5 separate regions of the Homo sapiens genome follow, and all the other regions are reported to be linked to region 4. The links are microRNA targets in miRTarBase. Many come from high-throughput screens and were not tested one by one. Region 4 holds a microRNA gene; each other region holds the end of a gene's coding sequence. Distances are from middle to middle.

Region 1 (4,096 bases), not on the chromosome of region 4:
GTTCCATCATCCTCCCCCAAACGGTCCCATCACCTCACCCCTCACCTCCTTTATCATTTCCACGATCTCCCCAGCTTGCAGCTTCAGCTCGTCCGCCTGCTCTGGGCTGTAGCTGAAGTTCACTTTGCACCATCTTTGGGGCCTCGGGTGTTTGGCAGGATGACCTAGCACCGGACAAGCGCGGCTGAGCTCCAGTCGGACGCCCCAGTCAGAGGAGCTGGGGGAAGCGCAAGGCGCGCACGTAGCCTTTGGTCCCTCCAGCCCCGCCCCAGGGCGGAGCATTGCACTCGAGAACCAATCACAGACCGCAGGGCGGCCCCGAGGTCCCGCCCAGAGCCGCGCCCGTCACTAAGAGCCGGAGACGCCGGGGTCGCACTGGCTCCGTGCACCCGCCCACCGGCGCCCGTCCCCGCCCTTGCGCTCACCTCGGCGGCGCGCACAGCGCGGCCTCCGCGCCTCTCCGGAGCCCCGCAGGGTCTCTGGGATCTCCTGGGAATCAGGGCACGGGGAAGGCGCTCTCAGCTCCCGGGGGGCGCGCGCTGAGACCCCACAGCCCGCCCCTGGCTCGGCCTCACCTGCACCAGGCGCTCGGGGAAGAGGCCATAGCGGCCCCCAAACTCTCCGCGAAGCCAGCCCCGCGCGGGCACCCAGCGCACCTGCCGGACCACGTCCCCGGGCGCCAGACTCAGCTCGTCCTCCTTCTGCGCGCGGTATCCGGCCAGGACGAGGACTTCTGCGGGCGGAAGACGGGGCCGGCGTGCGGCTCAGAAAGGCCCAGCCGGGCAGCCTGGCTAGGGCGGGCGTGTCCCCAAGCACCGTAGAGGGCAGCGGGGGTCGGGGGGTGGTGTGGGCTCTTGCTATGTCCACGGTTGCAGAGAGAGGCCACCTCAAAGCCTCCGCACTTACCCATGGTTTCCGGGGCGCCCTCCAGAGCCTGGCAGCTCCCTCTGACGGCCGAGTACTGGGCCCGCGCAGGGTGCGACCTGAGGCAAGACAGTAGGGTAAAGGAGGCGTAGCCGCCAGCCGATAGGTCGGGCCAGGTGCTGGGAGTGGGTGTGGAGAGGGGGCGGCCCGGCTCAGCAGGTCCGGCCCCCAACCCCGGGGTGAGGAGGACTCCAGGGTCTCTGGCCTGTGCAGCGGTCACAGCTCCGTCACAGGTTCTTCCGCCCACCTAAATTTTAGGCCAGCCGCCTCTCCCTTTCCCTCAGCTTTTGCCCGGAGGCTCCCAGCTACAATTTGCACAGAGCCTTTCCAGGCCCACCCTTCCCCAGCTCACAAGCTTTTGGCTTGAGGGGAAAAGGTGGGGAGAGGCACATACCAGGGTGGGGCCCCCCAGCAAGTAGCAACCGCTCTAAACCGGCCTTGAGTGAATGAAGTGGCTGCCCTTGTACCAGCAATAGCTTTGAGTGGACACTTCCAGTCTGCTTTCCTTCAAGGCGTACTCCTCTCTGGCCCCGTACCCACTCTCTACCCCCATATAGGAAGGACACAGCAAAGACCCCTGCTTTGGGGCCAGAGGTCTAGTTTGGTTTCAGAAAACACCTCCAGGTTTTCCCTGGGAGTTAGGCCGGGAGAATGAATTTTACCAGCTTCCAAGATTTCTGCTCACAGTTGAGTCCCCAGCCGGCAGGAGTCTGAAGGTTAGGGCCCACCCTATGGCCAGTCCATGTGGGATAGGCTCTTTCAGGTAGAAGGCTGAGCCTACTAACCACATCCCTTGATCCCTGCCCCACCACCATGATGAAGGAAGCCAAAGTCCTTGCCTATGACACCAGTGGAAAAAATCTGTTTCTCCTGGGGTGTCCAAGGTACACAATGCTCCTCCCAGGAAGGACTGTGTCTGTCTGGGACTCCAGCAGCCTGCGCAAGGCCCCACAGGCCCTTTGTCTTTCAGGTTTTCTGAAACTGCCGTGGGAAGTTATCTACCACCCTCAACACACACACACACTCAGGATGACAATGAACAGAACCCGTTTACATCTGCCACTTCATTTATTTTATTTGCAGGAGGAGTTGAAACAAATTTTAAGGGAGATTTTCATTTTCCCCCTAAACATGAATCATTCAAGTAAAACCAACTTAACTATAGAAATGTAGCAAAGTAAGGGGAAAGCAGCACAACAACGCAAGAGGCAAAGGCTGGGGGGGAGAGGTGGGTGCAGTCCGCATATAACATATGCATAAATGCCTTATGATTCACCTGCTCAGGACCGCCTCCCCAGAAGGCAAGCACAAGGACCCATTTTAAGAGGATGTTTCCCCCCAAACATCTGAGAATGCTTCAACTTAAACAGCTTAAGGTTAAAAAGACAAAGAAAAAAAAAAAGAAACCCAAAAAAACCCCTGAACCACCCAGCCATAACCACCTTCCTTAATCGATCATAGGAGTTTCTTTTCATTTTATAAAAAGATTAATAAAAAATATTGAAAAAATTTTCTCATATTTGTAAAGATAATAGAATTCATAAGTTTCTTAGAAAACAGACCAGACACTGCCCTCCAGTTTCCACCCCGTTGCTGGGAGGATCAGCAGGACTAGAAAGTTTGGGATACTGGAGCTGCTGGTGGAGAACGGGGAAGTCCAGCCCAGAAGAAATCAGGAAATAGGGCTCAGGGGCACGTGAGGTGTGGTAAGGAGCAACTCCACGTGATACATGGCTGCGCAGAAAAGGGGAACACAAGGTGGTCGGAAAGGCCTTAAACTCCTCCTTGACATACAAAACCGGTTTTTACAAAGATCCAAGCAGTTTGGTCCCAAACTGAGGTGAACACTTCAAAGTTTATTCACATGCTTTTGTTTTCTCTTTCAAGAATCAAAGTTTCCCAAATTAAATGTTTCTAATATTACTACATATGCCTAAAAAAAGAAAAAAAAAAAAAAAAAGGAGGGGGCTTTTAAAATCAGGACAGGGGAAAAGAGATCGAAAATCATCAAATTAGTCATCTTAGCTCCAAATGAAATGAAATTAGAACAAAACTGTTGGTTTCTAATAGGAAACAAAAATCCAAGCATCGCTCTCCCGCCCTACCCCTGCCCCCACCCCACACACCAACAAATGAGAAAAACAGCTAAAGCCCAATGCGTTGTATTCTGCTCAAAAGCTGGGCCTGACCCCTGGGCCCCATGGCCAGCCTCCTCTGTCCAGTGGGAGACAGCGCCAGGGATGCCTCTCGCGGTAGTACAATCTGTGCGGCTGGTGGGGGGTGGGGGTAGGATTTTCAGAATCTTCTTGAGGTTCCTCTGTTAAGCTCCTCACCAGCCATCTTCCCAGCGCCTCTCTCCCCTGGGCAGGAATCCCGTCAAGGGTGGCCCCTACTCGGTTGTGGGCTGTATATTGTCCTTCTCTTCTCGGTTCTCTGTCCCACTCTCGTCGTCTTCAATCTCCCCTTCCTCCCCACTGAACTTGTCATGGGCCCACTTGGGGCTGGTACTTGATTTCCGGAACATGAACCGGCCCCGACCCCGAGGAAAGGCTCCTCGGCCCCGGCCCCGGCTCACCCACTTGTCACTGCCTTCGCCTTCACGGTCATCATGCTGAGGGGAAAGAAAATTGCCATCAGTGCCAGAGTGAACAAGATGTGGCCAGAGCTCTCTTCTCTGCACGCACCCAAATGTGCCTTTCCCAAAAGAACCTGTGCCCTAACCCAGCCTTTTGATCCTTTTCTGCACTTCTCCCTGTCCCCCACTCCAAAAATGCCAGTGGTTCAGATCCATGAGAATATCAGTTGGGTGATTTAGGAATTTTAAGGTAACAGCTTGGGCATTGTAACGATGATTGACAATGATGATGATTCACTGAGCAAGAACCCTTAATAGTTTAAAGAAAATAAAAACGTCACTGAGCACTGAAGTAAGACATTTATGTACTATCTCATTTAATTCTCCTATCTACCCTATCATTATCACCTCCCACTCTGCAAACGTGCTTAAAGCTTAGGAACTTTAAGCAACTCCATATGATTTAGTATATCCTCTCTCAAAGGGTGGGTTTGAGAAAGCCAATCACACCAAAACGTGCAACTCCATGTGAACTGGGTTGTTAGGCAGCTAAGAAAGGAGGCAATGCGGCTGGGTGCAGTGGCTCATGCCTGTAAT
Region 2 (4,118 bases), not on the chromosome of region 4:
GCCTCTAACCTGGCTGTACTGTTGGAGGAGTGTGGAGTGGGTGCAAGGAAGATCCTCAGAGACTCTTGGGACCGCTATCTCAAGGAGATCGTAGAGCCCCCTCTCCTTTCCTACGTGAGTCACTCAGGTCTTCTTAAAGGGCTCCCTCCCCCGACAACTTGGGACCCGCGTTTGGAGGGCGGAGCCTTGATCATTGGCCCCTCCCTGTAGGAAGGCAACTGGGGCCAGAAAGGCCGGAGCGCTCACTCCGGGATCAGTGGAGCTGGGTGGACTCGGGACTCAGCTGAAAGCAGCTAGTCCACGGGCCGCTGCCAGGGACTCCCGTGCCCCACGCACCCCCGCCGGCACATCTCCTGGCCGGGCTCCTCCGCACGCAGCTGCCTCCCTGTGGCCCGGGATGGCCCTCGGGCGTCACACCAGCGGCTTTCCGCACAGCCCAAGGGACTGGGGTCGCGCCGGCTCCCGCCCCCACCCCTTGCTGCAGAGGGGCAGCCGCCTGCAGAAAATCAGCAGAGGTAAACCGAGGCGTCGCAAGCGGAGAATGCCTGCTCCAGCGAGGCGTCGCAAGCGGAGAATGCCTGCTCCAGCGAGGCGCTCGCGCGGGGCCACCGGGAATGTGCGCTGAACTCACCCCGACGCATCCGCCAGCCCCATGGCTCGCAAGTTGTCCGGTGCGGGCTGCTCCTGCTGCTCGAGCTAGAGGCCGCTACGCTCCGGAAGGCGGCGCCGGGACCGGGTGAGGCCAGCTGCGCTCTCCCGGGGGCTAATCCCGGGGCAGGACGGGGAGGCTTGGGCCAATCAGCGCGCTGGGGCGGGGCCTAAGTGGCGCGCGCCGGGCGGGGAGAGACTGGAGAAGGAGGATTTAACCGCTTCCTCCCCGGCGACCTGGCCTATGAGGCCTCTCGCTGCTCGCCCGGCCCTCTGCCCGGAGCTGGATGGGACTGCAGAACTGGAACTAAGCACCCGCGCCGGGCTGGCCGCAGTCGCGCCCCCAGGCCCTGAGTAGGTTGGAGCTGATCCCAGGTCCTGGCTCGGCGGAAGGTGCTCACGGAGTGGGAAAAGGAAACTCCACTGGCCGGTGACCCCAGCCTTAACTCGTAGGGGATCCAGGTCTGTGGGGCCTCTCTTGCCTTCAGCTGAGAGCGCCACCCGCAGGCTTTCTGCGACTACGCATCTCTTTGAGACCCGGAGCCAACGGTCCCCAAGTCCTCCCCTTTAACTCTGGCCACCCAGGCCAGAAATGGTTGGAGGATCCCCTCCGCTGCACTAAGCACAGCCCGGACGTAGCTCCCAGAAGGTTACTGCGCGGGCCGCCGAGGAGAATGGTGGGGGTCAGTGCTGTTGGGTGGGCGTCAGTGCTGTTGGGTGGGCAAGGCAGGAACTGCAAGAGCAGTTCCTCAGGTTGGTTTCACCGCAGGTGAGGGCAAAAAATGCCGGGTCAGGGCTGCAGACCCTGAAGAATTAGGAAGTCCTGTTGCCGTTGCCTTGACCAGCGGGGAGGTTTTCCTTAGCACCTTATTTTCAGCACCTGTGCTCCAACATCAGGCCCCAATTACAAAGTGAGGGGCCAGATTTCAAGGTGAAAGAGATCTGCCATGAAATGGGCTAAAAATAGCTGGATATTCTTGGGAGGGGCTCAGATTCCTCCCAAAGGTCAGTCTGGCTTGAATCATTCACAGCTTCCATCCTACCTCCCCAGCCCCCAACAGGAAAAGGCAACAACTGTTTTCTATAGAAGTTTATTCCCAAAACAGAGCGCGGCTTCACGGAACAATTTACACAGACAGGAAAGAGGGCCGCTGGGCTGGAGGAGGGGAACCCCAGAGAGGGGCATCTACGAAACCTAGGACATAGTAAAGACACCCTCCCACCCCCAGCAGGCCACTCAGCCCTTCAAGAGCTGGGGTCCTTCTCGGTAAGGAGAGTTTGGGTCCTGGCTGGTGGGATTTAGCTCCAGTCAGGGAAGTAGAATTTCTAATCTCCCAGGAAGCTGCTTCCCAAGAGTATGCATGGGGTGGTGGGTGAGGAGGTGTCTGCACAGACCACCCCCCAGCCCTGCACAGCCACTCTCCCCCGTGGTTAGAGGACGCCTACTCTCAAGGTCTTCTGGATCTGCTGTTAAACGGGACTCAAGGCTGACCTTCGGCCTGGGAGACCTGGGGGTTAGAAAACCCCTCAAGATGGCCAGGTCAGGGTCCTCACAGGTGGGTCCTCCAAGTCCCTCTCCCACTTTCCCTACCTTTCACTTGGAAACAAAGGAAAAAAAATTATCTACTGTAAACAAAGTGTAAAACTCAAAGTTTTGAGTTGTAAACAAAGTAAAAACATTTTTTGAATCTGGACTTGTAAACAGTAACAAAATTTTAAAGTCTTCAGTTCTGGACAGCAGACAAAATAGCAAAAGTAAGAGTTTTGTGAACAGGGTCGTAACAGTCATTTTTCCCTTTTTAAGGGAATAAAGGAGGAGTGGAACGGAGTCACTTCCTGCAGCCCAGGTGCCTAGGGCCACGGAGGATCCTGTAAACATAGGAGGCAGTGGCACCTACATTCTGGGTCTTGAATTCCCTTGTTTCTGCTCCCTTTGCTCACCTTCCCACCCTACCCTTCGGAATCAATTCAAGCAGGGGGCAGTGTCAGGGAATCAAATGGCACCACAGACAACTTTTGCTTGCTGCAGGGGCAGGTGAATGACCCCTCCACCGACCCTCTGCAGGAATGTCTGACTAGAGGCCCGAGCCCCTCCCCGTGGGAGACAGGGAAGCCTTGCTCTGTAAACACGACATCAGCTGCTCCACCAGCACCCCACAGCATCAGTCCTAGGTCATAAGGCAGTAAGTGGCAGGGACTCCACATAATAAACACACACATCCACCAGGAGGGGCGGTATGAGCAAGCCCCCATGAGGAAGTCAGAGGACCCCTGTTTCCAAGACCAACCCCCAGCCCCAGAAGTTTGGCCTTTGGAGCATTCAATAAAAAGCAAAGAACAATTCTGTACTTTGGGCCCCTGACGATACTCAGATCAACTTGGGGGTGGAATAGGGGGAGGAAGGCATGTGTCCCACCCATCTGAGTCCACCCCAGGAAGGAGAGAGAGATGAGCATAGGGTTTGCTCAGGACCCAAATGGGGTCAAACTGCATCTCTCCCTCTATCTCCCTCCCCCTCCCAGCCCAGCCTCAAACCCCCCAGGAGACAGAAAAGCTGAAAAATAACATAAGCATCTCTCTGGTTACAAAGGTACAAAACGTATAAAAGTCTCCCTCCAGTCCCCCGTCTCTGCACCTGTCACACGCATGCTCACAGATGCACATGGAGCCTCAGCCCTGCCACACCAGGTAGAGCTGGGGCACCCACCACTGGGGAGCAGGAGGCTGCCTTGGGATCTGCCCCCACTCCTGGAGTCTCTCCTGTTAGCCTAGATCCTCTGTCGCCCTCAGCTGTTCCTCGTCCACGCCGTCATCCCCTCAGGAGTGACCCTCACTTCTGGGAACTCTGGAGGCACATGAGGAAATCAGAGGTTGATGCCCAGAGGACTCCGAGTCAGGCGGCTCTGGACTCCCCCACCACATTTGGCCTGGCTGCTTCCCTTGCCTCCACCACTGCTCTCGCCTCTTAGCCCCCAGCCCCTTCATGCCCACTCCAGGGTTCTCAGAGTCCTCCATTCCGCGCCCCTAGACTCAGCCAGGCTCCTTGGCTGCCCAGGTGTTTTCTCTAAGTGCTTCAAGAGCACCTACTGTTTACAGATGCTATATTGAGCACTTGACAGATATTATCTCATAGATTTCCACATCTCAAAGAGTTTGTTACTACAGACTTCTTTACAGATGAGGAAACTGAGGCCCAGAAAAGCTTGCCTCTGCCTAAGGTCACGCAGCTAGTAAGGTAAGACACAGAGCTCAAACTCAAACCTGTGCGACTCCAGAGCCTGGACCCCTGCTCAGTCCCTAGTCTACCTCCCAAACAGCCAGACCCCAAAGCTAGACTGCAGGGGGACCCAGGCCGTGGGTTAGCTCCCTCTGGTCCCCACCCCCAGCAGCCCTCAGTGCCCAAGCCCCAGGATCCCCAAACCCCTGCTCTTTCCTCCTTCCTTTGTCCTCTCTCTGCCCTGGGTCCTGCT
Region 3 (4,118 bases), not on the chromosome of region 4:
TGGAATGATCTCGAATATCAAAATCTAATCCTTCATTTTAAAGACTGAAGATTAAAAATTCAGTCTCAGAAAAGTCAAGACAAGGCTAGCTAGGGATAAAAAGCAAGTTACAGCCAAACTGAGCAGAAAAGGGCCAGGGTTGGTTCCAAGGTAAGTATCTCTTCAGGAGGAGTTTGGTATTGGAAGGGGTCATTGAAGCTGCTTTTATGTGACACTTTACAAAAGACTCAGAAAACATTAATTAGCCGTGCCAAAAACAATAGGAGATGCTGATAAAGAACATGGGGATGTTAGCTTCCTCCAGACACTCTCCTGATGCTCCTATTAGTCCAAATACTGGTGCATATTTGGTTTTAAACACTTTCTATTCTGATCCACTTACATGTCGCATTTAAGTGGGCGCTTCTACTCACTTATACTGTTGAAACTCTCATCAACCTCTCTGAAACTTTTAAGGCATATAAAATCATCCCCATTAAAAAGGCATTCCCTTGCCTGTAGAGAAACAAATGCTCGCCTCACCTGTCAAAGGGATTATTGCAAATATTAAAGCTTTATGAAAAGGCTTTGAAACCCCGTAAGGCACAACACAAAATGTGAAGTATTATTTTCAGTAATGCTAAGACAATTTGACAAAGAGTTTTGCTTGCTTAATTTGGAATTGAAGTTCAAATCTGCACCTAGCGCAACATAATGAAATACTGATTGGGTAACTTTTTAAAAATCAGAATAATTACTATTCAAAGTTGCCTTTCAGTGTCACAACAGATCAGAGTGACTTATCTTTTGAAAATCTCTTAATACATTGAAAAATTAATGACAAGAAATCACATTACAGTGTATTTTTAATGTTTATATTTAAAAAATTAACACCTTTAATACCCACAAACACAAAATAATCATTATTTGGGGATGTCACTAGTCTAAATTTCAGTCCTATATATGTGTGAGGCCTGAGTTAAAACCTTTTCCTCCTGCCACCCATCCCCCAACCACATCTGAAGTTCTGATCACTCATTTACCTATTAGGCAAATTTTTATTTTCAGTTTACATTTGAGGGGCAGGTATTCCTTGAGAACGTTTTCCAGATGTTATCCACTAGGCAAGAATTAATTATACTCCTGAACAGAAATAATACTACCATGGCTGGCCATCAAATTCCAACTGGCTCAGAAAGCAACAAAGTTCTCTACCTTCCCTGGTAGATGCTGGAGAAAATCTTAGAAAAAGTAGTGAGGACATGAACAGACACTTCTCAAAAGAAGGCATTTATGCAGCCAAAAAACACATGAAAAAATGCTCACCATCACTGGCCATCAGAGGAATGAAAATCAAAACCACAATGAGATACCATCTCACACCAGTTAGAATGGAAATCATTACAAAGTCAGGAAACAACGGGTGCTGGAGAGGATGTGGAGAAATAGGAACACTTTTACACTGTTGGTGGGACTGTAAACTAGTTCAACCATTGTGGAAGTCAGTGTGGCGATTCCTCAGGGATCTAGAACTAGAAATACCATTTGACCCAGCCATCCCATTACTGGGTATATACCCAAAGGACTATAAATCATGCTGCTATAAAGACACATGCACACGTATGTTTATTGCGGCACTATTCACAATAGCAAAGACTTGGAACCAACCCAAATGTCCAACAATGATAGACTGGATTAAGAAAATGTGGCACATATACACCATGGAATGCTATGCAGCCATAAAAAATGATGAGTTCATGTCCTTTGTAGGGACGTGGATGAAATTGGAAATCATCAATCTCAGTAAACTATCCCAAGAAAAAAAAACCAAACACCGCATATTCTCACTCATAGGTGGGAATTGAACAATGAGAACACATGGACACAGGAAGGGGAACATCACACTCTGGGGACTGTTGTGGGGTGGGGGGAGGTAGGAGGGATAGCTTTAGGAGATAATGCTAAATGACGAGTTAATGGGTGCAGCACACCAGCATGGCACATGTATACATATGTAACTAACCTGCACATTGTGCACATGTACCCTAAAACTTAAAGTATAATAATAATAAAGAAAAGAAAAGAAAAGAAAAGAAAAGAAAAGAAAAGAAAAGAAAAGAAAAGAAAAAGTAGTGAGGGAAGAGAGCGTGGGAAGATTTGCAAGCAAAGCCAAGAGTGCCCTCTTGTGGCATACAAAAAAATGATTTTTAAAAATCACTCGTTACTTGGTAGCCCTTCATTTCCCGGAGTAAACACATTAACCTTGAGAAGAGTTCCAAGTACTGCCAAGAGAGAAAGGGAAGAACCGGATGACTGTTAAATAAAAGAGAAAAAACATACACACAATTCTTTGGGCCTATAAGTCTCACTCAATTTTATTGAAAAGTTTAAGACTTTAAAAGTTACAAAGTAGTATTCGCCCTGCCTATATTAACCATTAACAAGCATTGTACTGTTAGTGCAGCTAAAGTAATTATATCAGAAAAACATATCAATTGTCATTTTGTCCACCGGACAGTATTGTAAGGAAATGATGCTGCAAGAAAAGCAGACAAATATGGACTTCCCAACATAGGGACGTGAAGCAGGTGTATTAAAAATAAGGATGCATATAAAACTAAGACACAAAATGAATCCCTGAGCTGAGTTTGCATCCGAAAACATCACGTTCACACTTCATTTGGGTGAAAATGAACAAGGACACTTCTCATGGGCAACCACGGGGCTTTGGCTTCACACAGATGTGATCAATAACGACAGTAGCGGGCTCCAAGAGTACATTAATCTCAGAAAAAATAGTGGTATAGTCTCCACAGGGATTTGCTTCTCAGATAAGTAGAACTATGGCCTGCCATGAAATTGAGAGCTCATGAATATAGATGGTTGAGTGTATCAGTCTTCAAAGCATTTAAAACATACTTTTGTTTTTGTTTTATCAGTGCAATTTGTTTTTGAAGACGCCGGAAAACTATTTCATTTAACCTGAGCAATTAAAACGTGTCAAATCACAGCTGTCACAGTTAGGTTTGATAAAATTAATTGTTAGCATCCTTATTACTGGCACAGCTGTGATATTTCTGGATTTGACTATGCACCTGCTGCAGGAAAACATGATAAAATGTCATTTAGATCTCTAACTACAAGACCGTTAGACTAGAGAGCTCTTTAAGGCAAGGACATGAAAACTGCGTACTTTTATACCTCGCTTAAGTCAGTGACAGATTTACCAATGACAACACAATTTTAAAATTCCAACACATATATTACTTTGTCCTATGAAGGGCAAAAAGTCAATATATTTTAAATTTTAAAAACAGAATGGATATAATGACCTTTTTACACATCAGTGATATTTAAAAGACTTAAAGAGACAATACTATGGTTGAGACACTGGCTTCCTATTCCAGCCCTAATTAAAGAAAAAATAGCTAGTATGTTTCTAATTGAAACTAGAGTGAACTGGGCATCTTCAAAGTTATCATTTTCTTGGATATAAAAAAACAAAAGACCTGGGAAAGAAAAACAAGTGTTTTACAGAAATGAAGCAAACACATTTTCACATGACATAATCATTGACTTGGTGGTACACAGCTCAAGTCCAGCTTTCACTGATATTTCCTCATTAGATTAATAATTTTATTATAAAGCCTCCAAGGGGCATCCAGGCCCCAAATGAAGTCAAGATGCTCCCATTCCGGAATGCTCTCATGGAACACCAAGTTGGTGATCTGAGTCAGTAAGATATTGACGTCGTAGACATCTGCAAGCCAGTCGTGACCCCCGCTCCAGACTGCAGTCGGCACAAGCATGTCCTTCACATTGTATGTGGGAGGATAACTCTACAATGAAAAGGAACCAGAGAAAGCCTCGTTGTTGTTGTTGTTTTAATTTTCAAAATCACAATAAGCGCAATCTCCATTAAACATTGTCTAGTAAGTTTGACTAACAGACTAAATTTTTAAAATCTCTTTGAGTATCTTTTCAAGTTGCCATTACCGGCACAAAAAAAGAAATCTAACCCCAAATGAGAGAATGCTAATTATAATCGCCACTAGCTGTGGAGCTGCTGCCGTAGGCTGGGCACCAAAATGAATGTTTAATCCCCGGCAAGGAAGGTGTTGTACTCCATAGGTAGTACA
Region 4 (4,111 bases):
TCATCTGTGTCTGCTTGGTCTTGGAATTCTATTAACTTATCACAAGTGGGCTGTTATCCTTTCTTCTCCCCTGCTCTCTTATTGACCTTTGTTCTGGGTTGCAATTCACTTTCATGATCCCAGGAATAAGCACACATAAGAAATGGAAAATGATCTGTTTCTATTTCTCTTCAGAAACCACTATTATTTTAGAACTTTTCATGTACGATAGCTTATTTAAATGTAAGATTCAGAGATTTTTTTGAGACGGAGTCTTGCTCTGTCACCCAGGCTGGAGTGCAGTGGTGTGATCTCGGATCCTGCAACCTCCACCTCCCGGGTTCAAGCAATCCTCCCGCCTCAGCCTCCCAAGTAGCTGGGATTACAGGCATGCACCACCACACCCGGCTAATTTTTGTATTTTTAATAGAGACAGGGTTTCACCATGTTGGCCAGGCTGGTCTTGAACTCCTGACCTCAGGTGATCTGCCCACCTGGCCTGTCAAAGTGCTGGGATTACAGGCATGAGCCACCGTACCTGGTCAGATGTTTTAACATTTAAACAATGACAATAATAGCAAACAGTTACACAGCACCTACTATAAGCCAAGAGCTGCTATGTGTATATTACAATGCTGTTCCCAGAGCATTATGTATATTAATTTGTTTGATCCTCCAGTAGCCCTATTATCCCCATTTTACAGATGAAGAATGGAAGTACAGGTGATTGACTTCCTGAAAGGCACATGCCAGTAAGGAGTTGGACAGAAATTAGAATCCAAGCAATCTGACTCCAGACTTTTACGCACTATACTGTTGCCTCTAAGCAATTTTAAAATAAACATTTTATAGGTTACAACATGTTGAAATATTAATACAAGTTATTTTAAATGTAGAGAAATAACTGCTAATCTTTAAATTTTACCAACTGCCTAAATATGTTTATTTAAAATTGCATCAATGCTGTGATTTCTGACTGAATATGCTAAGGCAAATTGTTTTATCCTTGTATTTGTAATAAACAGATATGAGATACACATACATGCCTGACATGACAGTGGAGCAGAGTTAATTTTATATCCTTTTAGCAAATACATTTCTAAGGCTGTAAAACTTTTTCTACTTAAAATATTAATAATGGCAACTTAATGTTTCTTGCTATGTATTAGGTACTGTGCTGGGGTAAAGATGGAATGACTTACCTGCTATTCCTTTTATTTAGAGGTGAGTCTATTTCTTTTCCTACTGAATCTGGGTTGGCCAGTGATTTGACACGTAGAATGTGGCAGAAGTATTACGTTGGTGCAAAAGTAATTGCCAGTTTTGCCATTGAAAGTAATGGTAAAACTCGCAATTACTTTTGCACCGACCTAATAACATTCTAGGATGTCTGAGACTCTGTCATAAGAGCCTTGCAGCTTCTGTATACTGTAACATTCATTCTTGGGTCCAGCTTCCATGCTCTAAGGAAACATAAGCAACCTTGAGGAGACTCATATGAAGAGGATCCCAGGCTCCTGGCTGAGCACCCAGCTGACAGGCAGCACAAACCTGCCAGTCACTCAGGTGAGTTCTTTGGGGAGTATATTCTCCAACTCCAGCAGAGGCCAAGAGGAGCAGAATGAGCCAATACCACTGAGCTCTGCCCACATTATTGATTTGTGAGAAAACTGAATGATTGTGGTTGCTTTAAGCACAAAGTTTGGGGGTAGTTTTTTATGCAGCAATAGATGGACAGAACAAGTGCTAAGGCCTTTACACGTTATCTTTATTCCTCACAATGATCTTATGAAGAAGCTATTATCCTTACCTCAAGATGACAAAGCTGAGGCTCAGTGAGTTGGCATAATAATCCAGGTCTGTCAACTCCAGCTTGATAGATATTTCTCCTGATAAATCTTACTTCACTTTATGATCCATCTTATTCACAGCTGTTGAGTCAGGCACGACTAAGGTTAAATCTTAGTTCTGCCCTTATTGGCTATATGACCTTGGATAAATAGAAGGTAAGTTTGTTACTTCACAGGACTGTGAAGATTCCAAGGATACATATAAAGAAATTGGCAGGTGATAGGCACTCAACAATGGGCAAATATTATTGCTTTGAAAATTCCTATAATGCAGAAGCAGCTGGTGGTAAAAGGCTCGCAGAATAGCATTTGATGGTGTGAATACCATCACGGTGTGGGATGCACTCATTTAGGAGCAGGCACGTGCAAAAATGTCAGAATGGCCTGACTTCTAATAGGAAAAAACCTCATGACATCACATGATGGTAAACCATGTATGCATACATGGCCTATGTTTACCTGTATGTATAACATAATATGGGTATATAATTGATTTAAGTCTAGAAAATTCCCGACTAAACAGCTATGTCTGTTACTTCATTTTAAGATTCCTTCCAGCTCTAAAATTCTGTGAATTTTACTTAGCATCCTTTGTCTACCTTGAATGTTGATTACCTTAGGAAACAAATGCAATCACAGCCAGCTATCAGCTCATGCCAATAACTATATACAATTTGCAATTTGTATGCTATTCCTGAAGAAGAGTTCAGGTATTCAGAGAAAAGGCCTTTCTCTCTACTGCCTGCTTCTACTAATTTTTAAACAGGGACCTTCCTGAGTAAAGCAGGTCCTATCAAGTTGCTGTCATCTTCTCCCCTGGAAATTTGGGGGAAAAGGTGTGAGGGAATGGTGGAGCAGGTGAAAGGAGGGCCGCTGTAAACTGCTGTGAACATTGCTGGGTCTGTTGTAGGTGCTCAATAAACACTTAGAGAATTCAATGAACTTGTTCTTCCTTTATCCCATTTAGCCTGTCTTACCCACTTATTTCCAGATGAACAGTGGATGACGGTGGTAAGCAGTAGTGAGAATTAAAACCTCAACAGCTTATTGAAAGACCCCTTCATCCTGTGCTTTTATATTCTTAGTGCTAGTGTATGACATGAGCCAGTAACAGGGCTTCTGGCCCATAGATCCCTTCTGATAACAGCTCCTTTTGTTTCCATTCTCTTCCCTACTAATATTGGTGCTCTGACTGACAAGACAAAGGACTGTATCCTGTTGAGAAGATCTAAAATCTGAGTAACTCCCACTAAAATCTGTATCCTGTAAAGAAATAACACACTTTCTAAAAGTGCTCTTGGGACATTTAAAAATTGAAAGACAATAACCGCCCCCCCAACACATATACTCTTAACATTCTGTTTTTGATGCCATAAAATGAAAAGAATCAGAAAACAAAACTAAGACTCACACCAAAAAATTATCATTATCTAGAAAAAAAAGCAAAGAAAAAAACTTCTTTTATACAACTTTTGGATTAAAGAAGGTATCAAAACTGAAACTTAAGAACATTTAGAAAATAACAGTAATGACATTAATGCAGCCAAATGATTCGCCTTAAGCAGTGCTCACACTTAAGTCCATGTCTTCATCTCTTCTTAAGAATTAAGAAGTAAAAATAAATTACATGCTAACTCGAGTTAGAAAAAAACAAAATAAACCAAGGAAAGCAAAATGTGGAAAACTTATTAAAGTGGAAATCAACTAATTAGAAAGAACAAAATTACAGAATAGAGACATCCAAGCGGTTTGGGGAAAATAAAAAAATACACAATTAAAAAAGTAGGTAAACTGTTAGCTACCTTTATCAAGAAAATAAGGGAGAAACTTTGGGAGGCCGAGGCAGGCGGATCACGAGGTTAGGAGATCGAGACCATCCTGGCTAATACGGTGAAACCCCGTCTCTACTAAAAATACAAAAAAATTAGCCGGGCCTGGTGGCGGGCGCCTGTAGTCCCAGCTACTTACGACGTTGATGCAGGAGAATGGCATGAATCTGGAAGGCAGAGCTTGCAGTGAGCAGAGATCGTGCCACTGTACTCCAGCCTGGGCGACAGAGCGACACTCCGTCTCAAAAAAAAAAAAAAAAAAAAAAAAAAAAAAAGAAAATAAGGGAGAAAGCATAATACAAACTAAGGGGCAACATCCACATGCATAGAAGACGAAGAGTTAACTTTCCTCAACTAGGCAAATAAATTTGAAAACTTGGGATTAAATGGATGGTTCCTGATCCAGATAGGATATAAAAACTACATGGATTAATTACCTAGATGATACCAACA
Region 5 (4,118 bases), 75 Mb from region 4:
AGCTTCACACTAGTTCTAGGTAAGACGCCTGCCGCTCCCCTTGCACAGCTGCCTGCAGCAGGAGAGCTCGACACCTTCCTCCCCTTTCTCCCGTAGCCGTTTCTGGCAGTGACATGTGTCCTGTTGTAATGGAGAATTCTTTTTTTCTTTTTTTACAAAAATGCATTTTTTATCTGTAAGATGTAATTGTAAGTTCTGTCTAGTTTTCTCAGTTCAGAGAGGGACCATGAATTCTAATAATCTATTTGTAAGAGCAGCAATCTGGAATTTAATAGCTCACTAGTATGGCCTTCAGTGATTAGTGCTATATTTGTTACAAACAGAAAGATCCAAATTGTTGGTTTTATATCAATCACTGCAGGTTTGATCATCATCACCAGCAATCTTATTAATAGAATGAATAGAATTCTCAGTGATGAAAAACATTTTTTGTGCTTTTTACTTGTTGAATCATAAGATTATCAACTGAAAATCTTTGGACCTATATCCATTCAGTGTCTACTTAAATACAATTTACCTCTATTTTATCATGAGCCCCTCCCCCAGTTTCCTCCCACGAATGTTCTGCCTCCCCTTGCCCCAGCATGTCTCTCTGTGACTAAAGAATTCTTCCAATCCACTAATAACATTTCTTATTTCTGCACATCTAGGATGACAGTACGAGCCATAGTGACCACCAAGACCCCATCTCATTAGCTGTGGAAATGGCAGCAGTCAACCACACTATCTTGGCATTGGCCCGACAAGGAGCCAACGAAATCAAGACAGAGGCCCTGGATGATGACTGATCAGGGAGGTTAAACATGACAAGTTAACTTAGTTTAGACGTAGCACCTTAGCAGACTTTCCTCGGTCCTTAACATGTGTTCTTACAGTATAACTTGCAGTTTCTTGTATGTCAGGTAGCTGTTAGGGTCTTGTTCTGTGAAGATGGCATGGTGCCCTCAGCCTTTGCATATACTCTCTCAGTATTAACTCCCAGTAAATAATAACCAACCAACCAACCAAACTTCCCTCTCCCAGCCCCCGAGGCTAGAAAATCTTGCTGCTCCGTCTTAGCATTCCAAGAAAGTGCTTCCAGGTATTTAGATAGCCCTCAGTTCTCAAATATTAGACTACGTGTAAAATCTTGGGTACCTTTAGATTCTTGTAACACTAGTCTGTACTCCCTTTTCCTTCCCCAAGACTGATAGGATGCAAGCTGAGGTCGTGGCACAGGAATGACAGACACCATTTGGGGAGTATCCACAGAGTCAAAGGAACACTAGAATCCCCACCTCAGCGTGAGGATAATTGATTTCCAGCTGCAATAAGCCGTGCCTCATTATAGCCACACTGTGGCTAGATTATACTTCTTTGGGTGCTGTGCTAAGAATGTCAATGGAAAAAGCCGATCTCAGATTTTGTTTGAAGTTAACATGCCTGACACAGACATCCTTTCCTCTCACAAGCTGTGTGACTTAGTAGATAAAATACTGCCTTCTGCCTTTGGGACCATGATTAAAAACAAAGACAAAAACCAAAAGTCATTAAAAAAAAAAAAAAAAAAAACCCAGCTTGAGAGCATTGGAAAAAAAAAATATGAGCTGAATGTCTAATGGATGCTAAGTCCAGTTTTCAGAACCACTGTACATTCCACGGCACAGTTAGCAGTGCCTGCCTGGAAAAGTTTTGGAGGTCATCGTGGAAGTTGCTTTGCCTCCTGTCAGTGTCCCCTTTCCCTGCTACCAAAAAAGTCTTTCAAGGATGGAGCTAAGGTCAAAAATGAGTGAAAAAACTTGCAGTGTTTGTATCCATTAAACGGAAGCCCCCTCACTCTGAGAGGTCACTAGAGGACTTCATAGTGGGGTTGTGCTGCTTATCACAGATGCAGACACTTGCCCAGATAGGAGCAGAGAAAAGCAGGGGACGTTTCCTACTCACATTGTGGCTGTATGAGAACACGATGGGACTGCTTTGCTGTTCTCTTTACTCTGTCCTTGGAGAGGTGTGAAAAGCTGTATTGCTACAGGCAATTTATTTAATAATTGGAAGCCATATTGATAATGGATGTGGTAATATTTGTAAAGTTTAATCTACTTTAAGCGGCAGTAACTAATGGAATTTTTTTCCTTGATCACATATGTAGCACTTTTGTTACTTTTTAAAGATATTTATATTTGATAAATCTTTTTTTCATTTTGAGAACTCAAAATACCAAACAGTGAACTTGCATTCTAAAGTCACCCTGTGATCACCTTGTCATCTAGTAGCAAAATGATGAACTATTCATGCATCAAAGAAAATTACATCTGCTGGCCTTGTATGAAAATGATCTCTTGGCATCCCGATTAAATGACACACTGTCACTGTGGGTAAGAGGAAAGAGCCTTCAATGTAGCAGCACAGGGTGCGCCTGAAAGAGGCACAACTGCTGTGGATTTTCTGCCTCGCTCCATCTCTCCTATGTATAATGAAGCCTTGTTTAAAGGGGCATGTGGGGCTGGATGTTAAGCACGGCTTCTTTTTGTCCGTTACCTGAAAACAATTTCTAAGATAAAAGGAAGGTGCCATTTCCTTACCTCTTCACCCATCCTCCTCCACCAAATGTATTCAACTTAAAACTGTGAGAGAGAGAGACTGAATGACCTTCCTCAGTTTTCCCTTTCTCATTCAGGAGATACTGAATATCCGCCAGTTTGTAGTTGGTTTCCTTCCACTTAAGGCACACGCTGACTGCATCATTTCCTTATCTGTTAATCCTGCTTATGTGAGTGTGAGGAAAGTCTTTGAGAGGGCATGAAAGTGCCACCTTATATATGTCTGTGACTTTAAAGAGCTATATGCAGGGCCTGGTCCCACTTTTGTCCATGGATTTCAGGGGGAAAAAATATATGTACTTTTTTCAGCTTCCAAGCATTGAAGTGAAGTGGAGCCGTCTCTTCTGTTTTACTGTATTACTTGAACCAACAAATTCAAGAGTAGCATTTGTTATTCTCAGGAATGAGCCTCCCACCGCCCCCCCCCCACCGACTCATATTCTTTTTTGGTTTATCTTTTTATTTCAATTAGGAGATTACGTTCTCTTCCTTTCCTTTTATTTTGCTTAGAGGAAATGTAACATAGTCCCATTTTTGTGGAATTTTGACGCTTATTCTCAATTGAATCAGAAAGTACAAGGAGACAGAGAAAAAATCCGCTCTGACAAGCCACATCCATGATTGATTGTAAGGGGATTATTATAATTGATAGCTTCTTTATCATGGGATTGCTAGTATCATTTGTACTTGCTGGTCTTTTTAAAGGAACAGACTGACTCAAACTGTTAAGACAGCTGCAGTTTCTAAAGAAATACAAAGATTGCCGTGGATGCACTCAAAGGTTTCATTGTTTTAACACCTTTAAGGGAGAAAAAAAGCTTCAGAGAATAAAGGCAAGTTCGCATCCATGAAGGGCAGTACCAGACCCTATATGGCAATGTGGTAAAACTGAAAGAATATTTCTACCACTGCAGGAGAATGTCCTGGAGAGCTCAGTGGGAACAGGAGGAAGGCATCTTCCACCCACAGTTGTTCTTGTCATTGGAGAAGACCGCTGGCTGCTCTGAAGACCCACTGCCTTACATGTCACTTTTGCTTTTTCACCAAGAGTGAGAATTTACTTCCTTTGGGCCTAGATTTAAACCTGTTAGTTTTCTGTTTGTCACCAAGTTCAATTCTGCCATTTTGTCCAGGCCACCTTGGTTCTTGTAATGGTGTGTGGCGCTGCTACTGTTATATTTATTTCTAGTGTCTTTAGGTAGTATATTTCTCTCTTAGGCTTTTTCAGGTTTTAGAGGTGGAATTAAAATAGAAACCCTAAACTTCCGTATTACTGAAGGGAAAGCAGCCAGGCTCTAAAAACTCACACTGTATGCTTCTTGGTTGTTCCGCCCCTCCCGTTGTACTTCACTCTCTCCTTCAGGCCCCAGGGGACTCCCGCAGGGGCTGTTCCTTCCTGTCGAGGAGGACTTTCAAAGGTCTTTTGAAGTGGGGTGTGGGGGAACTTGCCAACAGGTATTCATATAATTTGTTATTTCTTTAAAGACACCTTAATTGAATTACTATGGTCAGATGGGTAAACTTTCCAAACTTTAAAAG

The links. The annotated mature microRNA hsa-miR-548a-5p reads AAAAGUAAUUGCGAGUUUUACC and lies in region 4 at 1,320-1,341, opposite strand. An mRNA with a match to its seed (bases 2 to 7 or 8) in the 3' UTR can be bound and repressed. Matches are read on the target gene's strand: a 7mer-m8 pairs with bases 2 to 8, a 7mer-A1 pairs with bases 2 to 7 and ends in A, and an 8mer does both.
Region 1: miRTarBase lists THRAP3 as a target of hsa-miR-548a-5p. Seed matches in the 3' UTR shown: 7mer-m8 at 2,099-2,105.
Region 2: miRTarBase lists CELSR3 as a target of hsa-miR-548a-5p. Seed matches in the 3' UTR shown: 7mer-m8 at 2,401-2,407 and 7mer-m8 at 2,316-2,322.
Region 3: miRTarBase lists LIPA as a target of hsa-miR-548a-5p. Seed matches in the 3' UTR shown: 8mer at 2,445-2,452.
Region 5: the mRNA of HMBOX1 is a reported target of hsa-miR-548a-5p. Seed matches in the 3' UTR shown: 7mer-A1 at 2,077-2,083 and 7mer-m8 at 2,137-2,143.

Annotation. Positions count from the first base shown.
Region 1 is chr1:36,303,235-36,307,330 of GRCh38, reverse strand. THRAP3 (thyroid hormone receptor associated protein 3) reads right to left here. Exons shown (of 12, transcript NM_005119.4): 12 at 1,974-3,535. The coding sequence ends at 3,314. It overlaps SH3D21 (SH3 domain containing 21), which reads right to left and starts at 963. Exons shown (of 16, transcript NM_001162530.2): 1 at 907-963; 2 at 576-733; 3 at 426-489; 4 at 46-164. The coding sequence starts at 910. RefSeq lists enhancers at 63-112, 1-715 and silencers at 213-652, 873-922.
Region 2 is chr3:48,634,740-48,638,857 of GRCh38, forward strand. CELSR3 (cadherin EGF LAG seven-pass G-type receptor 3) reads right to left here. Exons shown (of 35, transcript NM_001407.3): 35 at 1,724-3,493. The coding sequence ends at 3,466. It overlaps SLC26A6 (solute carrier family 26 member 6), which reads right to left and starts at 722. Exons shown (of 21, transcript NM_022911.3): 1 at 632-722. The coding sequence starts at 654. RefSeq lists silencers at 161-260, 651-930.
Region 3 is chr10:89,211,244-89,215,361 of GRCh38, forward strand. LIPA (lipase A, lysosomal acid type) reads right to left here. Exons shown (of 10, transcript NM_000235.4): 10 at 2,329-3,818. The coding sequence ends at 3,585. Among named protein-coding and RNA genes, the nearest start is that of CH25H, 6.0 kb to the left of the region's middle.
Region 4 is chr8:104,483,101-104,487,211 of GRCh38, forward strand. MIR548A3 (microRNA 548a-3) reads right to left here and starts at 1,365; the gene lies at 1,269-1,365. LOC105375691 (a long non-coding RNA gene) reads left to right here. Exons shown (of 3, transcript XR_928507.3): 3 at 1,149-1,187.
Region 5 is chr8:29,050,368-29,054,485 of GRCh38, forward strand. HMBOX1 (homeobox containing 1) reads left to right here. Exons shown (of 10, transcript NM_001135726.3): 10 at 651-2,895. The coding sequence ends at 788. Among named protein-coding and RNA genes, the nearest start is that of HMBOX1, 160 kb to the left of the region's middle.